Regions from separate parts of the Homo sapiens genome. Here all the other regions are linked to region 3. Evidence: fine-mapped QTL for protein levels in blood plasma. A gene starts in region 3. Each other region holds a variant in brackets. All regions are shown on one strand. Distances are between the middles of the regions. Region 1 overlaps LOC105375725 (a long non-coding RNA gene). Region 2 overlaps COLEC10 (collectin subfamily member 10). Region 3 holds the start of TNFRSF11B (TNF receptor superfamily member 11b).

Evidence for each region. PIP is the chance, under the fine-mapping model, that this variant and not a neighbour inherited with it causes the effect. Protein levels are from antibody-based Olink assays in UK Biobank. Linkage for the fine-mapping came from a reference panel and not from the study's own genotypes, which makes the PIPs less certain.
Region 1: its variant is fine-mapped to the plasma level of the TNFRSF11B protein (UK Biobank, PIP above 0.99).
Region 2: its variant is fine-mapped to the plasma level of the TNFRSF11B protein (UK Biobank, PIP above 0.99).

Annotation. Positions count from the first base shown.
Region 1 is chr8:119,184,426-119,187,191 of GRCh38, forward strand. The region is part of intron 2 of LOC105375725 (a long non-coding RNA gene); the gene reads left to right. Among named protein-coding and RNA genes, the nearest start is that of MAL2, 23 kb to the right of the region's middle. The variant A/G (reference allele first, on the strand shown) is at 1,199.
Region 2 is chr8:119,087,803-119,090,568 of GRCh38, forward strand. COLEC10 (collectin subfamily member 10) reads left to right here. Exons shown (of 6, transcript NM_006438.5): 2 at 1,878-1,949. Among named protein-coding and RNA genes, the nearest start is that of COLEC10, 22 kb to the left of the region's middle. The variant CT/C (reference allele first, on the strand shown) is at 1,157.
Region 3 is chr8:118,950,521-118,953,245 of GRCh38, forward strand. It overlaps TNFRSF11B (TNF receptor superfamily member 11b), which reads right to left and starts at 1,365. Exons shown (of 5, transcript NM_002546.4): 1 at 1,272-1,365. The coding sequence starts at 1,301. It also overlaps a transcript of COLEC10 not described here.

The DNA of each region.
Region 1 (2,766 bases), 230 kb after region 3:
AATGTACACTACTTGGGTGATAGGTGCATTAAAATCTCAGAATTCACCACCATATAATTCATCCATGTAACAAAAAACCACTTGAACTCCAAAAAGCTATTGAAGTAAGAAATATTGTTAAAAGCCAAAAGAACAAATATTATAAAAATTAAAATGTCTAGCTGCAAAAAAAGTCATCTGGCAAGATTTGTACTAAATGGAATGAGATAATAGGAGGTGAAAGGAAAAGAGAGAGAAGAATGCTGGTGGGAATGAGAGTTGACGGGGAAAGGTTTGAGGGGAAATGGAATCTAGAGAATGAAAAGGAATTAACCCTGGATGTTGACATTACCACTCTTCAACTGATATGAGAAGGAAGAAACAAAGAACACATGTTCTACCCTTGTGTTGCTCACAACTCAAGGAGTAGCAGTGTGTATCTTGCTGAGGAGACATTACTCGGAGATCTCTAAATCTCACAGCATTTGAATACTATCCACCCCGACACCTGGTGTGGTTGCATGCGTGTGCATGTGTGTGTGCATTGGTGTGTTGTAGTGAGGGAAACTATCCTTCTCAATGAGATGTTACTATGAAAAAATGACATTTCTCATGAGGAAACCTGACAGCTTTGAAGGTATAGCATCTATGGGAGATTCTCAAACCAAACTTAGAGATTTTAAAACAGGGGCTACCAACTCAATGCCTACAAGGTTCAGATGGTTAATAATAACACCCACAGTGTATTGAGCACATATTATATGCAGGCACCAGTCTAAGCACTTTATATTCATAAGCTTATTTAACCCTCACAACAATCTTATGAGGTAGGTACTCTTAACCTTACAAGACAGGTAGAGCATTGAGGCACACAAAGGTACAGGAAATCACCACGGACACAGAGTTAGCAAATATGTAGAGATGGGTGTCGCATCCAGGAAGTTTGACTGAGAGCACATGCTTCTCAGGAATGAAGCCATATTGCCTCTCGGCAAAGAGATATAAACAAGGAAATGGTCTGGCCAGGGCCTACAGGAAAGAGAAGAACCTATGACTATGCTGGACCGAAGCAGCCATTACTTATGTTCAGCCCATTCCTGATGCACAAATGTGGGCCCAGTGTTCCCAGATCATAAGAGGAAGTTGCAATCTAAACTTATAAATAAAACTTCACAATTTTTAAACATTGGTGACTTATTTTTGAGTTCAAATATTATTG[A/G]CAAACATGTCAACAATTCAGATATGGCCCATGATGAGCCAGTGTGTGACCTCTGCTTTAAACAGAACTGTAGTCTGCTAAGGGTGTCCAAGATAAACAGGAGTATACATTCAAAACAGGAAGTTTGATAACTTCAGAAGCTTGATGTATGTGAAAACAGAATTTTTAAATGTACAATATAAGGGGTAAAAGTACACACATTAAGAAACAAGCAACCTAACAAATATGCATCAGGAAGAAAACTTGGTAATAGCCCAATACAAAGAGAAAAGGAAGACATTTTAAAATAACAAACACCACCAACAAGAATGCTGGGCTGCTGCACTGACAAGGACAGTTGAGATGAGACATCACTCTCCAAGAAAGTTAAATGTGATCTGGAAGAATACATCTCTTGCTGTGAAAATCCTGTCCCACTTACATCAGACATACTGTATTCAGTGAGACATTAACAAGTAAACAGCAAATCCACATCTCACAGGGCCATTGGAAGAAGATGGGGAAAAACGCAGATCGATGTGGGCCTAAATACATCCCATCTTTAATTATTTTAAAACTCTATCAGACTTTCTCCCAGGCAGATGCAACCAGGAAATGTAAATGGTTCTAGAAATCATTACCAAAATTTTTTTATTCTTAGTAATGTTGAATACTTTCCATCTATTTATTTGACATTTGAGTCATTATTTTGTGAATAATCTTTTCTTATCCTTTGCCCATTTATCTATTTAAAATACCATTTTGACTATTGAGTTATTATAGCAATTCTTTTAAATGGCATCATGTAATACAAGTTATCATGCAGTGAAACTGGCATTCGCACCCATGACTGACACTTTGGAAAGCAATTTGATACGTGTGTCAAGACAGTTTTACATCTTTTTACTTGATAATATCACTTTTGGGAATCTATGCTAACAAATTCACCTGAGACACAGAAAATAATGTTTTATGAACAAAGATATTCAACATAAGAGGTATTTATAAGAGTGCAAAACTGAAAACACAGTAGGTAATCTCATTCATTTTTTAAAAAAATAGCACAGGAAATGCTTAAAATATCTCATAAAAGAGGAAAGAAAAAGGATGTTCAGATCTATTACCGTGGCTGTGCAAATACACATAGAAAGATGACTAGAAGGAAAATATAAAACTATCAACAGATAGGATTATGGATGATTATTTTCTACTCTAATACATTTTTCATATTCTCTTCAATGAATGTGTATCATTTTTAATCACACGCCATTATCTAACATGAAACCTGAAATGCCATAATTAGATGCATTTATTTACATCTTGAAAAATTTGATAATCAACTCACATATAAGGCCAGGCACAGTGGCCCACACCTGTAATCCCAACAGTTTGGGAGGCTGAATGGGGAGGAGTTTTAGACCAGCCTGGGCAACATGGTAAGATCCCATCTCTACAAAAAAATTAAAAATCAGGCATATGGTGTGCACCTGTGGTCCCTGCTACTCAGGAGGCTGAGATGGGAGGATTACTTGACCCCAGGAGTTTGAGGCTGCAGTGAGCCATGTTCCTGCCACCACACTTGAGGCTGA
Region 2 (2,766 bases), 140 kb after region 3:
GTACATGTTGTGGAATCCTCATTTGACTACTAAAAGCTCTATGACAATAGGCAAGCAACTTAACCACATAGTCTCATTTTTTTTTCATTCATGAAATAGAGCAATACGAGTTTCCATCTCCTAGAATTGCTATGATGACTAGATGTCAAGTCCTTAGCTTGTGCTTGGCTGACTTTATAATTGCTCAATAGACATTCACTGTTAACTTTAGCTAGAAAAATGTAATCTACAGGAGGATCACTTGAGTCCAGGAGGTTAAGGCTGCAATGAACTGTGTTCACACCACTGCACTCCAGCCTGGGTGACAGAGAAAGACACTGTCAGAAAGAGAGAAAAAGAGAGAGAAGGAAGGAATAGTGGGAAGGAAGGAGAGTGGGAAGGAAAGGAAGGGAAGGAGGGAGGGAGGGAAAGAGAGAGAGAAAGAAAAAAGAAAGAGAAAGAAAAGAAAGAAAGAAGAAGAAAAAAATTTCATCTAGTTCACTCAATTCTTACCTCTGGTCTGACCACAGATATCACCTGTGCATTCTTTTCTGAAAGCCATCCTAGGAGGCATCTATAGCTTCCCTTGTAAAGTATTTCAATGTTTGATCAATCTCACACCTGGAAATCCAACTCTTCCATACATTGTCCTTGCTTTCACTTAAAATTTCAACATTCTGCACTCAGAAAAAAATAAAAAGAGACAATCTCTGGTCGTGTTTTTTCCTGGATAAATCAATGAACATCACAAGTTACTCTCGCTCAAACTGTCTCATCCCAAGAACTTCATTTTTGTCTTTAGAAGGTTTTGATTTTCCTCCTTTCATCTGCTGATGGACAGGGCTCTTTCATGCCCTGAGATTGCTGTGGTGATAATGCAGGTATCTGGTCATAATATCGTGTGTGTTGTGTTCTTTGTTTTCAAAGCACATTCACGTGCTCACCTTGTTGATCCGAAAACAACTGAGTGAGGCCTGGAGAGCAGATACTATCCCCACATTTAGGAAAGGAAGCATAAAGGAAAGAAAAACAGCAGCCATCATTGCTAAGCACTGATTGTATCCCAGGTGTTCTATGTCTGTTGTCTCATTTGAACTTCCTGAAAGCCCACTCCAGTAGGTGTTATCAGATCAATTTGCTGGAGAGAAAAGTGAGACTCAGAGAGGGAAGTTCTGTA[CT/C]CAAATTTCTCCAGATAGTGAGTGGTGGAGCTGAGACTTCAGTCAAATCTCTCCTAGTCCAAAGCCAATAAACTCAATCACCGGCCTGTTGAAGATTTGTTCAAACCATCAGTGACTAACATGGCATTAAAATCCAAGACTCCTGATTCTCAGTCTGGGCATTGTTCATTAAACCATTCATTCAATCTTTAATTCTTCAAGGTGCTGGAGCTACAGTTGCCTATGATTAAGACAGTTGCCACTCATGGAAAACTGCTTTGTGGCTTCTCCATTCCTAGTCTCCTATTCTTAGCTTCCTAGGTCATGCCTACAATTTTGGAGTTCTCAAGCATGCAGTCAGAGAGTAATAAGTTATGTGTGCCTCTGTGTGTGTGTGTGTGCGTGTGTGTTTGTGTAAATTTTATGTTTATTGTCCATCCAGAATTTGCTAGATTCTACAGCAAGAATAAAGATTTGTCAGGCCAAACATCACAATTCAGCAACAAGAATATTTCTTCAAACATAGAGTTGGATGTGGAGAAAAGTAAAAAATATACTGGAAGTTTCTTCCTTTCACCTGATTGTCAAGTGCATGTGAACATACATCCATACTCACAGCTGGATTGTGAGGCAAGCGCTGAGCTGAGGGAAAGATTGTAACCATGTCCACCTTACCCTGGGAGAATGTGCTCATGTTACTGTTTGAGATGCTTCACTCTATCTCATTTTCTGTTTCAAAAGGAGATGATGGTGAAAAAGGAGATCCAGGAGAAGAGGGAAAGCATGGCAAAGTGGGACGCATGGGGCCGAAAGGTAACTAAAATGATGTGAAACTGACATTTTAATATCATAATTGTTCTTCTATCTCTCCTGGCCCTTGCCCTGGAAATTAGCAGCTTTCATAATGCCCTCTGCCCCAACAATGCCTGAAATATATTTCACACATGAATTAACTCGCCATCTGAATGCCCCTCTGAGATTACCTGTCAACAAGACTCTCATATGTTTCTCAAGTTGCATTCTTTAGGGCTGGCTGGTGTGGGACACTGGGAGCCCCAGGGAAAAGCACTGTCTGAGAATATTTAAGAAACGATGTGTTATAGTGCTGTGTTCATAGCTGTGTCTCCCTTCTAAAGCCACTGCTAAGCAGCATTTTTTTTTTAAGCTGGCATAGAGCTTAAGGAGGAAGATAAAAAGAAACAAAAAGGGCTACCTGATTCATTGATCTATTCACCTTTCCCCAAGATCTCTTTATTTCTTTAATTCCCTCCTTTGTTATATACAAAAGAATAACACACTGGAGAAATGGTGGGGTACGGGAGGAGTGGAATCAAAGATGAAGAGAGTAACACAGATATGATTAGGAAGTGTCTTCACTCACAAAGTTGGGAGTTGGCCTCACCAAAATATAACTTCTAGGTTGTGATGTGTATGTGTGCACCTTCTGAACACTTGAAATATTTCTTGCCAACTGCTACAAGAGGGCTGCCCTAGACCACTTATTTTAAAATCTTGAATAGTTTAAAAGAAAGAGAGACTCACAGACCTGTGAGACCTCAATTTGGGAAATGCTGACTTAAACCTATGTATACATATGCATGTCGATTACAAGATTATTCTTACAAAATAA
Region 3 (2,725 bases):
CTCTTGAGGTGCCGATAATATATTTCTTGATCTGTGTGCTAGCTCACAAGTGCTCACTTAGAAAAACTGCATTAGGCACTTACCACTTGCACAATTCTCTATGTGTTATATTTTAATAAAGGTTTACTTTTTTAAAAGCACTCCATAGTATCTCTAGCGATGAAGTTATACACACACACACATACATACATATATATTTTAACATACTTATGGGTAGATTCCTATCCAACTTACCTGTTCTTTAGTGTCTTTACTATTTATTTACTTATTTATGTTTCTGTATCCTAGGAACTAAGTAGAAGACTACCTAGCCTTCTATTCATTATTTGTGGGTTGGAGGTTGAAGTTCAAACATTTACTCAAACACATCCAAAACACATATGTGGCTTAAATATGGCTTTTCCTAGCCTTGCATAAATGTCTGATTCATATCTTGATGTACTCTACACTCTAGTGTCATAGAGAAAATAAGTCATTGGTCATAGAAAAACCTACATGCAAATCTTATTAACTTGATCAAAACCTAAGCTTAAAAAAAAAGCTAAGTCACAGAGATTCCTTTCTTTTCCAAATAACATTTTAAACACAATTTTTAGCCCTATTTAGTGAACTTCAATTCTTTAGATATGTTTTAGAACATAACATACTGCCAATATTCTCCACAGTATATTGAAGTTGAGAAGTGAAATAATTTTAACAATAAAATTTTATTAAAACATTACACAGTTAAGAAGTGTGTGTGTGAGAGATCTTTTCTCCTAATTATTCAAAATTTCACATAATATTTACATTAGAAAAATCTATCATGTCATATTCTAATTATAATGGTTTTAAGAAGACTAACGTCTTCTTCCAACTTACTCTGAATCTAAGGGACCACTTCTTTGCCACTAATAATAAAAGTTCAAGTTCATTAAGCAAAGATAGTATGGACTACATGAGGGCGTTAATATTCTGAGATGAAGACAGAAGGTTAATGACTAAAACTTTCAAACAAGTTTCTCTCTCTCTCTCTCTCTCCCTCTCTCTCGCTGTCTGTCTCTCTCTTGCTGTCTTCCATAAAGTCAGCAGGAACTTTGCAGCGTAAAAGGACACCCTAGGGGAAGCATGGCATAACTTGAAAGCGGTTTCCTGCTCCAGCCTAACCCCAAGCCTCTCCTGGGAGGGAGCGAGTGGAGCCTTCTCCCCGCCGGTCCGCTGGGAGGTTGGGAGACCAGGTGGCAGCAGCCTCCCCAGGCGCCGGGCACCCGTCGGCTGGCCCAGGGACTTACCACGAGCGCGCAGCACAGCAAGTTGTTCATTGTGGTCCCCGGAAACCTCAGGGGCTTGGAGGCGGCGGCTGGGCGAGCGCTCCGGTGCGTCTCCGCAGCCCGTGCGCTCATCACGTTATATATAGCGTCCCGGCAACAGGAAGTATCGCCTGCCTTTGATCAGTCATTTTTCTATCCTGGACCAAACTTTGCACCTTTCTTTTTTAGGAAGCTTGGGCGGGAGCGGTCGGGGGGTGTGCAGAAAGCTCCAGGGTTAACGCTTTCAGGGCTGGGGCGGAAAGGATCCCCCAGGGAGGTGGGGCGTGAGGGGTGGGGCGGTGGTGTCTGGCCCCTGGGAGAGCAGGGGAAAAAAAAGCCACCGGGCTGAGGAACAAGGCGGCTGCTGTCTCCGCGGGGCTCTGAGGTTTCCCGGCCCCTTCCCGCCAGCGGCCAGCCTCCTGGCAGCCGGGACCAGCGGTGGGAGGGCTGGGCACACGCTGGGCAGCTGCTGTGCTTGTGTCTCCTCCACCCTGAGAGTCCGATCCAGCCAAGATCCGGACGCAGTTGGAGTGTGTCCCAGACCTTTGTCCTCTCGCTGGGCGAAAGCTGTGAGTTTCCGCCGTACCCGGCTGCCTGACCCCTTCACTTCGGGTTCTGAAACCTCAAATTACAGGGCCCCTCTTTATGCATGGCATTGTCTGAGCCCTTTTCGGGGAGTTCGCAATCATTCATCTTCAAGTTTACATAAACCATGTAGTAGGAATTTTTCTAACTAATGTCTGATTGGCCCTAAAGCCCGTGCTATTCTGCATTCACTCCTTGTTATCTGGGGTAGTTAGAGCCAGAGAGAATCTGCAGAGTGAAAATTGGACTGCCTGGGGCAGGGATAACCTTGCGGAGCACTGTTCCCTTCACCAACCCCACCATCATCAAAGGGCTATTGGTATCGGAGCTTCCTACGCGCTGAACTTCTGGAGTAGCCTCCTCGAGGTCTTTCCACTAGCCTCAAGCTATCGACAGAAGTTTGGCACTTTGCTCTAGGGTTCGCTGTCTCCCCCATTAATTCCCTGGTCTAGAAGTTAGACTTGATGACTTGTAAAGTGTGGTCCCATTCATGGATTACAGTTCGCGGGTTGCCACTGAAATTGTTTACAGATGGCTGAAAAAGTCCCTGCAGAGCTGCTTCCCCATCAGGGCCAAGTGTTCAAGTTATATGTCTCCAGAGAAGGGCAAATACTGCCTTTCACCAGATTCAAGGGAAGGAAGGTGAAGAATCAGGAGAGGGGACCCCTGGGGAGCAAGGATGGCTTACCAGGATCAGAGCATCTGCCCCTTCCAAGGGACATCCTTCCACCACGAGTTCAAAGTGGATCCACAGACTGTTCCATCCTGCAAATTACAGAAGACGGGGTGTCATTCAGCTTTGTCCCTCAAGGGCCAGAATGTAACAGCATGCTGGTTTCTTAAGTGAACTA